2 linked regions of the Homo sapiens genome follow. The protein of the gene in region 1 purifies or fractionates together with the protein of each later gene. This does not show direct contact. Each region holds a gene or a part of one and is shown on either strand. Other genes may lie near its edges. The genes, in order: INTS4 and BMP2K.

Evidence for each region.
Region 2: the proteins of INTS4 (region 1) and BMP2K purify together in Homo sapiens (affinity purification with mass spectrometry; 2 studies listed by BioGRID and IntAct, with this or other methods). This does not show direct contact.

The regions. Positions count from the first base shown.
Region 1 is NC_000011.10:77,956,117-77,963,810, forward strand, and holds part of INTS4 (integrator complex subunit 4), read right to left. Parts: intron 5,023-7,694; coding exon 4,837-5,022; intron 4,276-4,836; coding exon 4,225-4,275; intron 2,719-4,224; coding exon 2,630-2,718; intron 1-2,629. UniProt on the Homo sapiens protein: Component of the integrator complex, a multiprotein complex that terminates RNA polymerase II (Pol II) transcription in the promoter-proximal region of genes.
Region 2 is NC_000004.12:78,905,083-78,912,776, reverse strand, and holds part of BMP2K (BMP-2-inducible protein kinase), read right to left. Parts: intron 6,670-7,694; exon of another isoform or gene 6,616-6,669; intron 2,168-6,615; coding exon 744-2,167; 3' UTR 1-743. UniProt on the Homo sapiens protein: May be involved in osteoblast differentiation.

The sequences.
Region 1 (7,694 bases):
TGCAGGCTCAGGCCAGGCACAGTGGCTCACATCTATAATCCCAACACTTTGGGAGGCCCAGGCAGGTAGATTGCTTGAGCCCAAGAGTTCAAGACCAACCTGAGCAATATGGCAAAACCTCATCTCTACAAAAAAAATACAAAAATTAGCTAGGCGTGGTGGCATGCGCTGATAGTCCCAGCTACTTGGGAGGCTGAAGTGGGAAGATTACTTTAGCTCTGGAGGTGAAGGTTGCAGTGAGCTGAGATCACACCACGGCACTCCAGCCTGGATGACACAGCAAGACCCTGTCTTGAAAAATAAATACAGTCTGGGCGCAATGGCTCACGCCTGTAATGCCAGCACTTTGGGAGGCTGAGGCAGGTGGATAACTTGAGGTCAAGAGTTCGAGACCAGCCTGGCCAACATGGCGAAACCTCCTCTCTACTAAAAATATAAAAATTAGCCAGGCATGGTGACACATGTCTGCAATTCCAGCTACTCAGGAGGCTGAGGCAGGAGAATCGCTTGAACCTGGAATGTGGAGGTTGCAGTGATCCAAGATAGTGCCACTACACTCCAGCCTGGGCAACAGAGCGAGACTCCATCTCAAAAAATAATAATAATAATAATAATAATAATAATAATAATAATAATAATAATAAACAAATAAATACATAAGTAAGTAAGGCTGCAGGCTCAATAAACTGAGAACAGTCAATGAAGACTGACACACACAAAAATGATAATTGAATAGTTCAAATCCTAGAATGATTAAATACAGTTTGGAATAAACAAATCACTCTGGGAGTACAAACCAACTCTTTCAGTTGCATTGCAAATTATGCTTTTTTTTGAGACAGGGTCTCACTTCTGTCGCCCAGGCTGGAGTGCAGTGGCGTGAGCACTGCTCACCACAGTGTCAACTTCCTGGGCTCAGGTGATCCTCCCAGTTCACCCTCCTGAGTAGCCGGGACTACAAAAGCATGCCACCACACCCAGCTAATTTTTTATATTTTTAGTAGAGATGGTTCACCATGTTGCCCAGGCTGATCTCAAACTCCTGAGATCAAGCAATCCACCCGCCTCAGCCTCCCAAAGTGCTAGGATTACAGGGCTGAGTCACTGCAACCAGGTGCAAATTTTCAATGTATTGAATAAAAGTGTGTAACCCACCAAAGGTTCAGCCAGGCGTGTAATCCCAGCACACTGAGATACTGAGGCGGGCAGATTACCTGAAGCCAGGGGTTCAAGACCAGCCTACCCAACATGGCAAAACCTCATCTCTACTAAAAGTACAAAAAATGAGCTGGGTGTGGTGGTGCGCGACTGTAATTCCAGCTACTTGGGAGGCTCAGGCATGAGAATTGCTTCAACCCAGGAGTTGGAGGTTGTAGTAAGCCGAGATCACATCACTGCACTGCAGCCTGGGCCACAGAGCAAGACCCTGCCTTAAAAAAAAAAGTACGTAACCCACCAAAGGTTCAAAGATTTATGAAATTATCAAAAACTAGCTTCCACCGAATATTTCATATCCTTAAGTTTATTATCTTCTGTAACTGAACTTCTTTTTTTTTTTTTTTTTTTTTGAGAGAAAGTGTCTTGCTCTGTGACCCAGGCTGGAGTGCAGTGGTGTGATCTCAGCTCACCACAATCTCCACTTCCCAGGTTCAAGCGATTCTCCTGCCTCAGCCTCCCTAGTAGCTGGGATTACAGGCGTGTGCCACCATGTCCGGCTAATTTTTGTATTTTTAGTAGAGACGAGGTTTCACCATGTTGACCAAGCTGGTCTTGAACTCCTGACCTGAGGTGATCCGCCCACCTCGGCCTCCGAAAGTGCTGGGATTACAGGCACCACCGTGTCCAGACTGAACTTCTATAAATACAGTAAATCTCAGAATAAATCAATATAAAACTTACTTATCAATCCAGTCCTAAAAGAAGACACAATTTCCAGTTAGCCCTTTTCTTTGTATGTGTCTAAGTCCTAAAACACTACAAATGGAGCCTACTCCTACAGGTTTATTAATTCATTCTGGTTTTCAAATTCTGGCAGTTTAATGAACAGGAAAAAACACCCCTTTTTCCTATACAAGGAAAAATAAAATATTCTATAAATATTTATAAATAAAAGATAAATAAACATTTATAAATATAATATTCTATCTTACAAAATATAATAAATAATATTGCCTACCTCCTCAAAGAATCACTGTGGTTAATTTAATTGCTGTGAAAATATTTTTAACCAGGAAAACTACATAAGAGATCATTATTCTCAAACTCATCTGGTATCTTTATCTGGCATTTGGCACAAGCCAAACTAAAATGGGTCCCAAACAATTTTAAAGATTTTTTTGTAAAGTACTGAAAACCATTTAAGAAAGATATTCCAATTTCTTCACTTATGGATGAGAAGGTTAGGATAAAAGAAGTGAAGTATCTTTCCAAAGTGTACAGAAAGTTCCTATCAGAGATGAAAAATGAGGACCAGGCAATCTGATTTTCAGGGCCTGTGCTTTTCCCTTATTCCCCATTGCCTTCCAAAAATGTAACCAACATTTCTTTTCTAGAAGTGGGCTTTTTGCATGGTGAGAGGAGAGGAAAACGGCTTCACAATCAACAAAAGCCAGCTTACACCCACACTGACCTTTCAGGATAGAGCTGACTGACGACCCAGATAAGCTGGACTGCAGCACTGCGCACTTGTTCATAGTCATCAGAGAGTAATTTACAGGCCTGCAAAGAAGAATTCCAAAAGTCTATTAGTTCTGTGTCCTCTCAGGCAATGTTTAAACTATTTTCAAAGTGAAGATAGGGTGGTTGGATAAGGATGCCCAGTAAAACACTTGTGTGTGGTTTTAACTTCTGGAATCTTTGCTTAAAAATGAATCTTGACCTCTGTCAGCTGCTCTGGCTGTATTCTGACTATGCACCCTACCCCATGTCTGAAAGGAGAATCACAGACTGACAGCATAAAAACATCTAGAACAGATCAAACCCAGCAAAGCATGCTGGGAGCAAACAGTACTGTTCTCACAGGTTCAAACACCAATTATGGCTTTTTCCTCCCCCTGTAAAAATCAAAGCACACACTTCTGTTTACCTTGGTCTGAAATCACTGGCCTCTGTTTCAATCCACTCACTCTTTCTGGGTAGCCCCATACTCCCTAAATACTGATGGCTTTGAATACCTACCCTTAGCTCTGATTTCTCCTGATCTCCAGGCCTTTATAACTACTTATGGCTGGAATTCTCTTCATGGATGTCCCATCAAACTTTTATACTCAACACACGCAAACCTGAACTCATTAAGGAAGCAAATTCTACCTTATATCTTAAATTCTACACTATCAGTCCATCCTCACTCCCTTGATGCTGTCATTACTGCTTGCCTAGATTACTAACAGAGTCTTACGCCACCAAACATCTGAATCAGCCAACTAACTTCCCTTCCTCTGAGTCCTTACGATCCAAGTTTCCTTTGAATTATTTGGCTTCCCACATAGTTTTCTTATAGAAAAAGAAGGCGATGGTCACACCACCACAAGCATTCTGGACCCATTCTACTTCATTCAATAGAGGAATAAACTTGGTTTACACATCTGTGATGGGGCTTGGCTAATTATCTTCTTCCCATGAGAGATAAAACCACTCTTGGCAGGCTAACAAAACCTAATCTCTGAACGTGGATTTAGATTCCTTTTACCAGATTCAGTCAATTATCCTCCAAGAGAAATACAGCCTCATAAGGCCTTTTGGTTGGCCATCAATCAGCTTTTCCACAACTTCATTATACCTTTCTTTACCACTACTACTACATGCATGTGACTTTTTTTTTATATGATCCTACGGTCTTGGTCACCCTTCTCCAGACACACTCTAGTTTGTGAAGTGTGGTGCCCAGAAATGAGTTCATGTACGGCCCAACCAAACAGTGATCAGAAAGACTAACACGTTCCTTATTCTAAATGCTACACTTTTCTTCAGGTACTCTCATTCTCATACTGAACTTTGTAAATCCTCCTAAAAGTCCTTTTCACATGTACTAGCGCTATTTAATTACATAACCTCCATTCTCTTCCTGAAAAGTATGTTTTGAATATGACTTCACATCCATCCCAATCAACGCTGCCACTATTAACTAGCGAAGTCCTTACGTTTTCAAATTCTGAGAACCTGTGTGCCGCCCTCCCAGCTTCATGATACCTCCAACCCCTTCCAGACAGTAATCATATAAGGTACCTGATTATAAATTGTTTGGTGTAATTTCAGTCCTCTTTCATGGAGCTGCAACTAGATAATAAATATATAGTTTAAGTGCTTGGGAGGAAAAGAGCAATATTTCCAATGTCTCCCCACAATCTCACATATTTTCCCCTATTGTATCAGGCTAACATGGTTCCTTTTAGCCAAAATTAGTGCTATATAAATAAGAAACCTTGTCGTCTTTCAATAGGAGCATTCAAGCATTTCACAAATCTAACCCATGGACTGTCCCAAGAAGGTATTAGAAAAATATGAAATAATGATATGAAGCCTAAAGAAAAAATGATTAACACCACCTCCCCCTATTATAATATCATACCAAGTCATATGCCTCCAAGTCGAAGGAATTATAACAGGTTCCTATTGTGCTTTCCATGTTTCATAAATACACATGAAAGCTACCAGAGAAAGCCAAAAAAGCACACTTGTATACAGGAATGTGTGTCACTGAGTTCTGCGAGGCCACCACCAATACCCTCCTGAAAGTATATGCTGAAGAATTTACAATGTATCCAAGGCAGCACTAGCTATAAACTTAAAAAACAAAAATGAACACTAGCCCCAACTAGTTTCCATAATCACATTTACCATGGCTTTTATAGCTGCTGTTCTGACACGTGGGTCTTGGTCACTGAAGTAATCCCCTATAATCTTCTGGACATCTCTGGCAGCTAGGCCTTCTGCATCTTTTGTGACACTTTTCTCCAAAGAGCCAAGATTGCCAAGTAACTGCAGGCACTTATTTCTTACACCATGAGACGTATCTGTCAGATGCTATTAAAAAAAAAAAAAAAAAGAAAAAAAGAAAAAGAAAAAAAGGACATGATTAAGATATCTTAACAAACACAGACAAGACCAGAAACAAAAGCATTGCAGCAACCTTAGGGGTGATTTCAAGACCTATATTCTTAGGACAGTCTGTCTAGCATCATGTTACTTGAGTACGGGTCTTCTCAAAAAAAATGAGTCCTTAGAAAATAAAAGTCCTAGTTTTTCATCTTTGTATTCCCAATAGCTTTGGGAATACAAAGGCACTTTGCCTTGTACAGAGTAGGTACTTTAAAATTCGTCCCTGATTGCGTTTTATTTGCTTTCAAATTTTAAAACCAGACAAAAATGTATAAATTTTTAAAACTTTTAATATCCATAGAAATATGCAAAATCTTAAGTGTACAGCTCAATAAATTTTCACAAATACACATATATAACAAGCACCCAGATTAAATAGTATATAACCAACACTCCAGAAATATCCCTCATTCCTCCTCCCAGCAACAACCTCACCACATCACCACCAAAAATAGCTACTATCCTGACTTCTAACACACAGGTTCATTTGTTTATTTTTGTACTTTATGAAATCAAATAGCATCTGGCTTCTGTGGCTTATTATGTTTGTAAGATTTATGCAAGGTATGGCAGATAGCAATGGTTCATTTATTCTTGTTACTTATATAGTATTCATTTGTAAATACATGAAAATCTATTTAGCCTTTCCGTTGATGAATATTTAAGTTATTTCCAGTCTTTGGCTATTTCGAATAATGCTACTGTGATTATTCTTGTATGTGGCTTTTGGTGTACATGTTCACATTTTTGTTGGATATATATGTAGAAGTAGAATTGATAGGTAACAAGACATGCTTCAGCTTAAGAAGATACTGCCAGTTGGGCACAGTAGCTCATGCCTATAATCCCAGCACTTTGGGAGGCCAAGGCAGGAGGATCACTTGAGCCCAGGAGTTCAAGACTGTCCTGGGCAAATGGGACTATAGGCATGTGGTGGCACACACCTATAGTCCCAGCTACCCAGAAGGCTGAGGTAGGAGGATCCTTTGAGCCTCGGAGGTGGAGGCTGCAGTGAGCCATGATCATGCCACTGCACTCCAACCTGGATGACAGAGTGAGATACTGCCTCCAAAAAAGAAGATATTGCCAAATAGTTTTCCATAATGGCTGTACTAATTTACACTTCCACCAGTGCTGCATAAGTGTTCTAGATGTGCCACATCCTTGTTGACATTTAGTACTATCAATATTTTTTATTTTAGCACCTCTCACCACGAATTTTAATAAATTATCAGTTTTCCTCCTGCATTACCCTAGTCCAATGCTACTAAAACAAGCTATTTGCATAACATAGCAACATAAATTAAAAATACTTTGAAGAAATGAGGTAATAAAAATGGTACAAAACTCTGGATTTCAAACTTCTTTTGACTAGCACCCAAAGTAAGAAACACATAATATTGCAAGACAGTACATAAAAACAGACATACAGCAAGTTTAACAAAACAATATTTACCTTATAGCTTGTGATTTACTCTGGTACTTGTATTTTATTTTTTTTCAAAAAAAAAAATTACGTCTCATGAAATTGGTCACATTACCCACTAATGGATAATGATTCTCAAAGTGAGTCACTAGTGCGGAGAAAAGTGAATGGGACTTGGCCAGCTTGGACAACACAGCGAGGCCCCATTTCTTTAAAAAAAAAATTTATAGCCAGGTGTGGTGGCACACACCTGTAATCCCAGCTACTCGGGAGGCTGAGGCCAGAGAATTGCTTGAACCCAGGAAGCGGAGGTTTCAGTGAGCCAAGATCACGCCACTGCACTCCAGCCTGAGCAACAGAGCAAGACTGTCTCAAACCGCGCCCCCTAAAATTCAAAAACAAAACAAATGAACTATTTATATTTAGTATAAAAACATCATTTCTCATGACTAAACTGTTGATTGCACCTCTGTTACAAACACTTTGATTTTCAAGCAATAAACTAAATACTTCTAGCTTCTGTCAACCAGGCAACAATAATGCACAATCAATGTATTACTGCACACTGAATCTTAGCCCAAAAGAGAGTCTCATGCTCTCAGGGAAACAATTACAATTTTATGATGTCCTTCCCTTACAAGTCACTTCTTGCATCAAGGTCATCATCATTAAGAACTGCTTTTCTGGCCGGGCGCAGAACGAGACTCCGTCTCAAAAAAAAAAAAAAAAAAAAAACAAAAAAAACTGCTTTTCTTTATACTGTTGGATAAAAACTTATTAATTAAAAAAAATTGCTAAGTGTCTGCAGATGCTATTTGGGTGTTACACATTTTGTCAGGCCATTGAAGTGCCATAATTTTTATATTAATGGAGCAAGTAAGGAAACCACATCCCCAATAATAAGACCAATTTGTGTCAAAAATAAAAATTAATTTACAATTTTGCTATATATTAAAAAAATAAATGGTTCTGTGTATCAACAAAATCTGAGAATGAAGTTGAATAAGATAAAAATAACATACTGATCCATTCAGCATCGATATGGATTTTTTTTTTCTTTTGAGATAAGGGTCTCGCTCTGTCACCCAGGCTGGAGTGCAGTGTTGCAATCAGCATTCACTGCAACCTTGGCCTGACAAGCTCAAGAGATACTCCCACCTCAGTCTCCTGA
Region 2 (7,694 bases), on another chromosome or scaffold:
TTTTTTTAATTTGTTTTAACTGACAAAAATTATATATATTTATCATGTATAACATTGTTTTGGAATATGTAAGTTGTGGAATAGTTAAATTGAGCTAATTACACATTATTTCATATGCTTATCATTAGATATTCCATTTTAATGGCACTTGTTTTTAAAAATGAAACAGAGTTTTAGGCACAATAGTCAGTTACTTCTGGCTCTGCTTTGTGGAGAAAGGTGTATGGACTGAAATCTCTGCACTCTCCAGATAATAACTTTCTAATGCTTTAAGATAACTAGATTGTTTTTAACTGTCTGGAAATTAAAAGAGACCTTAAAAAAAATTCACAAGTGTAACTAGTGTATGTAGAAATAACCCTAATTTTAGGGATATGCACATAAAAATGACATTCTGATATCAAAAATAACAGTTTCACTGTCCCTTCTCAGTGGCTACACACCTAGAAAGGTGCCATGTGCTTTCACTGGAAGTACCACACTTGCATTTCTGTGTTGTGATGTCAGTAGCAGAAACCCTTAGTTAGAGCTTGCAATTTAGCTCCCTTTTCTCCTGAAGAGGAATCAAGTTACTACCCTGTAGAGATACTTCATTCTTCTATTTGGTTTATTTAGAAATCACCTATTCTGACTGATCTTTAAGAATGAATGCTATAAAGAGCTACCAAATTTTCTTTCAAATTCATAAAACTGTTCACACTTTTTTGAAACAGGAGTTAATGCCGAGAATCCATCAGAAGTATCTACTGTTTAGAAGGAAATGGAGCAGCACCAAATGGGTCTAATTCGACTGGTTGGGACTGTTGGGACTGATGTGGAGTGATGCTTTGCACCACAAGTTCTGTAAAGGGCACGGCACCAAAATCATCCATTTTCAATACATCTGCACTATGGAATGACCCATGTAGTGAATTTTGTCTTGGCCGCCCTGGCAGGACAGTATTGTGATCAGCACGGATGTCGCTCAGGCCCTGATGTGGAGGGTGCCATGACAGGTCTGGAGAATGGAAGGGCTTGGCACCGAAGGGGTCCAACAGGCTCTCCTCAGGTTGTAAGACATTCCCCCTATCTTTCCCATCAGTCAGTGCAACACTAATGTTCTCCTTGGAGTCTGAGATGGTTAAAAATTCATTGCTACTTTGAGAGTCTCGGCGGCCCACTTTTTTGTGCCTGCGAGCCCTCTCTGGAGTGCGATAGGTAGGCTTCAAAGTCTTCTTTGTGCTAGTTGGCGTGCCATGATGCCGCTTCCCATTACTTTTGGACATATCCTGCTTTGTGCGCCTTTGGCGAGAGGACAGTTTCTGTAAGCTGCGCTGTTTGACTTTTTGCTGCTGGCTCCCCGTTATTTCATCAAAGGGCACAAGCCCAAAAAGGTCCTCATTGCTTTCACTTTTACTTGTTGATGTGAGGAAGGGCTGAAATGGAGTGGAGCCAAATACATCTACACTTTTGGGATAACCAGGGATAGTATGTGCCTCAGGCCCCACTGCATGGCATTCTTGTACATTCACCTTCTTGCTAAAAGGCGCCTTTGTGAATACATCAAATTCCTCCTGCTCCAGTCCTGCAGCAGGAAACCTGTGTTGAGGGAGGTTCTTTTCATTCTTTTCTTGCTGGGGCTGTTGAGCACGCACTGCAAAGAAGGGGACAGCGCCAAATACATCAAACTCCTGTTTGGGAGTCTCCACTGCAACATCAGAGGATAATTGGGCTGAGGTGAGGAGTATTGTATTAAGATCTTGGGTTGGTCCACTGCCAGATCTGTCTCTGTAGACAGAGCTCATGTCACTGTACTTTGCTTTAGCCTGCTCATAATCAGAATCAGAGCTATGTTTCTCCTCTTCTTCCTCATCTTCAGAATCCATGAGGAGAGGCCTATGACCCAGATTTTCTGGTTCAGTATCATCATCATTAAAATCTCCTTGTTCCCCCTGAAGAACTTCTTCATCATCTTGCTCTTCCTCTTCACTGCTCTTAGGAGAAGGGGGATCTGATTCAAAATCACTTTCAGATTCATCATTCCCCTTTTGCACTTGACCCTGTACTGAGGTTTTCTTTCCAGTCCGCTGATCTTTAGATGCTGGACTTGTTTTACCGTTCTTGATAGGGTTTGCAGTGCCATTTTCTTGATTTATAGATGAATGTTCAGCTTTCTTTTCAGGAGAACCTGCAAGTTCAAATAAATATTATTACAGCATTCCAATGCATTTCAGAATCCTCTTGCACTAAATGTTAATATGTATTACACATGGCATTACAAATCCCTCATACGAGTTCCCTTAGAGGAAAAAATAATGTTGTCAATTCTTCGTCATTAGACTTAGAGAATGCATTTGACCTCAGGTAGATAGTTAAGTCTTAATGTAGACAGACTTATTCATATCTGGACCCTACACCCTGCCTCATCGTACTCTCACTGACAGCCAAATTTTATTTATAGCACACAGAATGTAGTAGACTAGCAAATTTTCTTCACCCCACCACCAAAATAACATTATTCTGCTAATTCTGAAAGCTCAGATTTCACATTCACCAAATACCTCCTGCTTATATTTCAACTCTTGTAAAGTTTTCCCATAGAGATCAACAAGCATGAACAGCCTGCCTGCTCAGTTACGTATTTGTTTCACTATTTTTTTAAATCAGCATTGTATTTTTTATAAACCACTATCTTTTGAATTGACTTAGCATGAATGGCCTCACCAAAGCTAAGGACCAGATACTAAATGGAGACTGTACCAAAAACATCTGCCTTCTCTAGATGATATGACTTCCTTTAATTATAATATCTATACATTACATTAAAAAAGCGAGATTCCTTTAAAAACAAATCTAAACCATCTGGAGATGTTTTTAGCTCAGAATCCATTCAGTCACTTCATTTTCTGAGTTCATTCAACGAAAGAAATATAGGGCACTTTGCTATACACTGATTATACATTGGTGAGTAAAAGAAACATGGTTTCTGCTTTCAGGGGTTTACAGTCAGAGGTTGTAAGTAAACATAAATTGTGACTAGTGCTCTGAAATAAAGGACAGCAGGGAAATGGGCGCATAAACCTACTTTGGACAGTGGTGAAGACCTCCCTAAGGAGACGACAGTTAGGATTGAACAATGAGAAGGAGCCCAGCCATGCAAAGGATAAGCTGGAAGCAGCTTCCAATAAAAGCAATGGCATATATAAAGACATATTTAAGGGGCTGAAAATAGGCTATTGTGGCTGGAATATAGTGAGCAAGGGAGGATCAGGTACAACATGAGGTAAGGAAGACTGGAAAAGGCCAGACTGTGAAGGTCCTCTAAGGCCATGATAAGCAGCGTATATTTCATTATACATCTAATTCAAAATTCCATGTATAATGGAAAGCTATTATTAAAATAGGTGTCATGATTAGGTTTACATAAAAAAAAATGACTGCTCTATAGAAAAACACTAAGGGGGCTGGGTGCGGTGGCTCACCCCTGTAATCCCAGCACTTTGGGAGGCCAAGGCGGGTGGATCACGAGGTCAGGAGTTTGAGACCAGCCTGGCCAACATGGTGAAACCCCATCTCTACTAAAAATAGAAAAATTAGCCAGGCATGTTGGCAGGTGCCAGCTGAGCCAGGAGAATCGCTTGAAACTGGAAGACAGAGGTTGCAGTGAGCCAAGATCGCACCACTGCACTCCAGTCTGGGCCAAAGAGCGAACTGTCTCAAAAAAAAAAAAAAAAAAAAAAAAGACTAAGGGAAGGTAAGAAGGGGAGTTCAGGCAAAAGGAAATTATAGTAATGCAAGTTAGAGATTTTGGTGGCCTAGATGACATGACAGTGGTGGCAGGGTGGGTCAAAGTAGAAAAAATAGAGATTGAAAACTCTTGGTGGATGGCAGCACCATTAACAGAAAGAAAAGAATGAGTGGCGTGATAGAAACCCATTTACCCTGATGTGATTATTATGCACTGTATACCTGTATCAACATATCTCATGTACCCCATAAATGTATATACCTACTATGTACCCACACACAAATTTTAATGAGCATAATTTTTTAAAAAATGAGTAAGTTGGAAAGTGAAGAGGAGTACTAAAAATTTTGTTTGGAGACATTAAGCTTGACATATGTGTGAGACAACATTTAAGTGTACAGCAGTTAGGTATCTGTGATTTGAAACCAATGGTTAGTTTTTGGCTGAAGAAAATAGATTTGGGAGTTATCACCATGCAGTTGGTATGCAGAGAGAGCCACAAGACTAAAGGGCATACCTCGGAAGAAAACATAGAAGAAAAGAAGATCCAAAACTGAGCCCTCAGTATAAAACATTCAGAAGTCAGCAGAGGAAGATGAACATACAAAACAAACTACAAAGTAACAGCCAGAGAGGAGGAAGAAAACAGCTGAGTGCAATGTCACAGAAATGGAGAGAGAAGAATGTTTGAGGGAGGTAACAGACAACTGAGCTGGATGGTGCAAAGAGGTCCAGTAAACTAAGGACATAAAATGGCCACTGGATCTGGTCATCTTGTATAGTTTGTTGGCAATGTTGACATGAGTAGTGGTGCTAAAGAATGTGTGGGAGACAAGTATGTGAAGAATACCACCAGGTTATACTTAATTGCAAATATAATCTTCTGTCAGTTCCTTAAAACCAGCCAAGAGCTACATGCTGTATTTGTTATCCTTCCAGATTAAAAGCAAATCAAATGCAGATTCTCAAGTTTGACTTCTTCCCTACACAGCGTATTTATGATATTAAAAACAAAGTTAATTTTAGTGAATTTATTTTTATGAATTTTTATTCAAAAGCAAAATATGGGAAGAAGGGAAAAATGAAAATAAAATATGTACGGTTCCAGAAGATTTCCCATCATCCCTGACTGTGAAACGTTTAACGTATTACTCCTCGAGCTGCATACCCACCCACAGCCACAACATTCACACCTCACGCCTGCTCACGGACACCTCCAAGTAACATTCCAATGTTGCCCAAAGTGTATTCTGCAGAGGCTATTTCCCTAACAAGAACCAAGACAAACAGTTCTGTGGTCTCAAGCAAACAAGTCTATGAAATGGTGCACTCTGCATTCTGCCTCCACTCCTACTCACCTGGAGTATGCTCATTAAAGGTGCTAATGAGTCCTACACAAAAGAATCTAATTTTATGAACCCTAGGATTTCCCAAATTGTCTTCACTACCCTTTTATTTACATGTAATGCCTGTTAACCTTTAAAACCAACTATGCAAAAGTACTTTGGGGAAATGCTGCTATACAACTTATCTTGAAATTTTCCATTTCTAGTTGTGTTCCTGAAGGTCTTCTGGAACATTTAACGTAGGACAGATAATTCATCTTGGAGAGTGTCACTTGGAAGTGAATTTAAATTCGCCTTCTTTTTAAAATTATTACATTGTACTCCCTAGTCTTCTTAAAATTTACTGTTTTCATTATTCAACTGGCTACCATTACTTTTCAGAAGACATCTGTCACTTTATACTTCTCATTCTGTTGGCCCTTTGTCCATTTATCAAAGTTGTATTAATAGAAATACACATTTATAATTGTCAGTGTGGGTATAAATCTGTGGGTTTTTAACTTACTATTTTTAATGCATCTTTTCAGGTATCAACAGTCTATTATTTATTCTGATAGAAATATGATAAAATATTCCATATATAACTGTTCACTATTTAGCAATAGAATATTTAGGTTGTTTCTAGTTTTTCGGCATTTTAGATACAACCATGATTCATGCACTTTTTCCTTCAAGGAGTAAAAAGGAAACCCTCCTTTTTTAGTATCAATTTCACTTTATTTATATACTATGATTCCCTCCTCATGGGTAATTAACACAGCTACTAAAGCTAACCCAATAATAATCCTGACAAGGTCACCACTATTCCACTTTCTTTATACACAAAATGGGATAACACATTTTATATCATAGAGCTATTGTGAAGAAAGGACTTAGAACGGTGCCTGAACACATAATAAGCACTCTACCATCATCATGTCCTGGGAATGGCCAAATTCAATTATTTTATCCATCATACCCAATAAGCTTCTAGTAACTTTTCTGGGCCCAGTGGTTGCAGGTGAATATAAATGAGGGAGAAGTGTAGGGAGAAGCAAGTCTATGGCTAATTCAAGAGGAGCTGAGATCCACTTCAGAACTGACCAGAAGTAAGTAGACCAACAAATGTATATCCACACAGCATAAGGGTACATTTTAGATCCTGGAAATTCTATTTTTGATTTTTAGACAGCTATATTTGAGAACACAGTATAAGAAATGGAAACACACTTTCAAAAAGAGCAAGAAAAGACACAATCATCTATACCACCTTTGTGCTTTCAGGTTACATCTGCAAATAGTACGGGCAACTGGGGAAATTTTCTGTTGGTGTAGATAGACTGGTTTTACTTATTTTGCCCCCCTACATAAAACTAAAATAACAATCAAAAATATTTATCCAAATTCCTGTTTTCTCCCATATTCTTGCAACCCACACTGACATTGTTTAAATATTTCACTCTACACTTTTACTGCTGTTATAAACTTATAAAAAGTAAAGAGCAGTAATGAGGCTCTCTGAAAGCATACTAAGACAAACTATTAATCCTTTTATCTCTCCAGTACCTCCTGCTGAGGAAAAGTTAGGTTCCAGGCTGCAAGTTACCACAATCCAAGGTAAGTTTCTGCAGTAGCAGTGATCTACTTAATCATCTATTCATCATGAAACTACAGAAGAGCTGGGAAAGAAAGGTGAATTACACAAAAATAAAAAGTATTTCAGTATATTCTAAGGCTTTCAGTCCTATTCCATAGACATAAAAGACTGTCAGAATAAGTATTTTAAGTTATAAAGTTGGTTATAACTATACAATGCACAGCACTTTAGAATGTGACCTCTAGCTAAGAATGCCATAAACCTTCATACTCCATTTCTTTGCCTAAACATATTCCTATAATTTAAAAAAAAAAATTTCAGATCTTCCCACTATTTGTGTCTGGGGCCAGATTCCCACTAGTTGTTAGATTAAATAATACACATTTGATTTACTATGAAATTTAATCAGGATTATTTCACTGCTAAAGTTAATTTCCCAAAAGTATAAGCCTAAATATGTTGCTTTATAATTCAATATACCCTAAATCCTAATAATCCCCATATTTACTGAGATCTGTATTATTAACATAAAAATAGCTGTTCTTCAAGTAGGTGGGAGATGGGGGTATAATATTTAGAATAAGCACTAACAACATGTATTTACAGCATTAAAAACTGTGTAGATGGTGCACAGAATCATAACTCATTTACATTATTTTAGTATACTGTGAAATTTCATATATTCACCCACTGTTTTTATTTTTGGCTCTAAGTAATGTATTTCTTCTTTTTCTTTAACTAAATATGGTAGAATGATATTTTGATGGTTTCTAGTCAAGATATTCTTTATTTCTGTTTTTGTGCTTTGGAACTACGAACTAAAAATTTTAGCTTTTTTATTATCTTAGGAAGTTGCATGTTAATTACTGACACTAAGCAAGTTTACTAATTATGCAGTGATTTAGTAAATAAATGCCGTGCAAAAATCTATATGATCAACCAATATCTGTAAACAAAACTTAACGAAAGGGTTAATCAATTAATTGAGAGCTATTATTTCAAATGCTGTTCCCCAACTAAGAATGAACCAATAGATTAGTCAAAA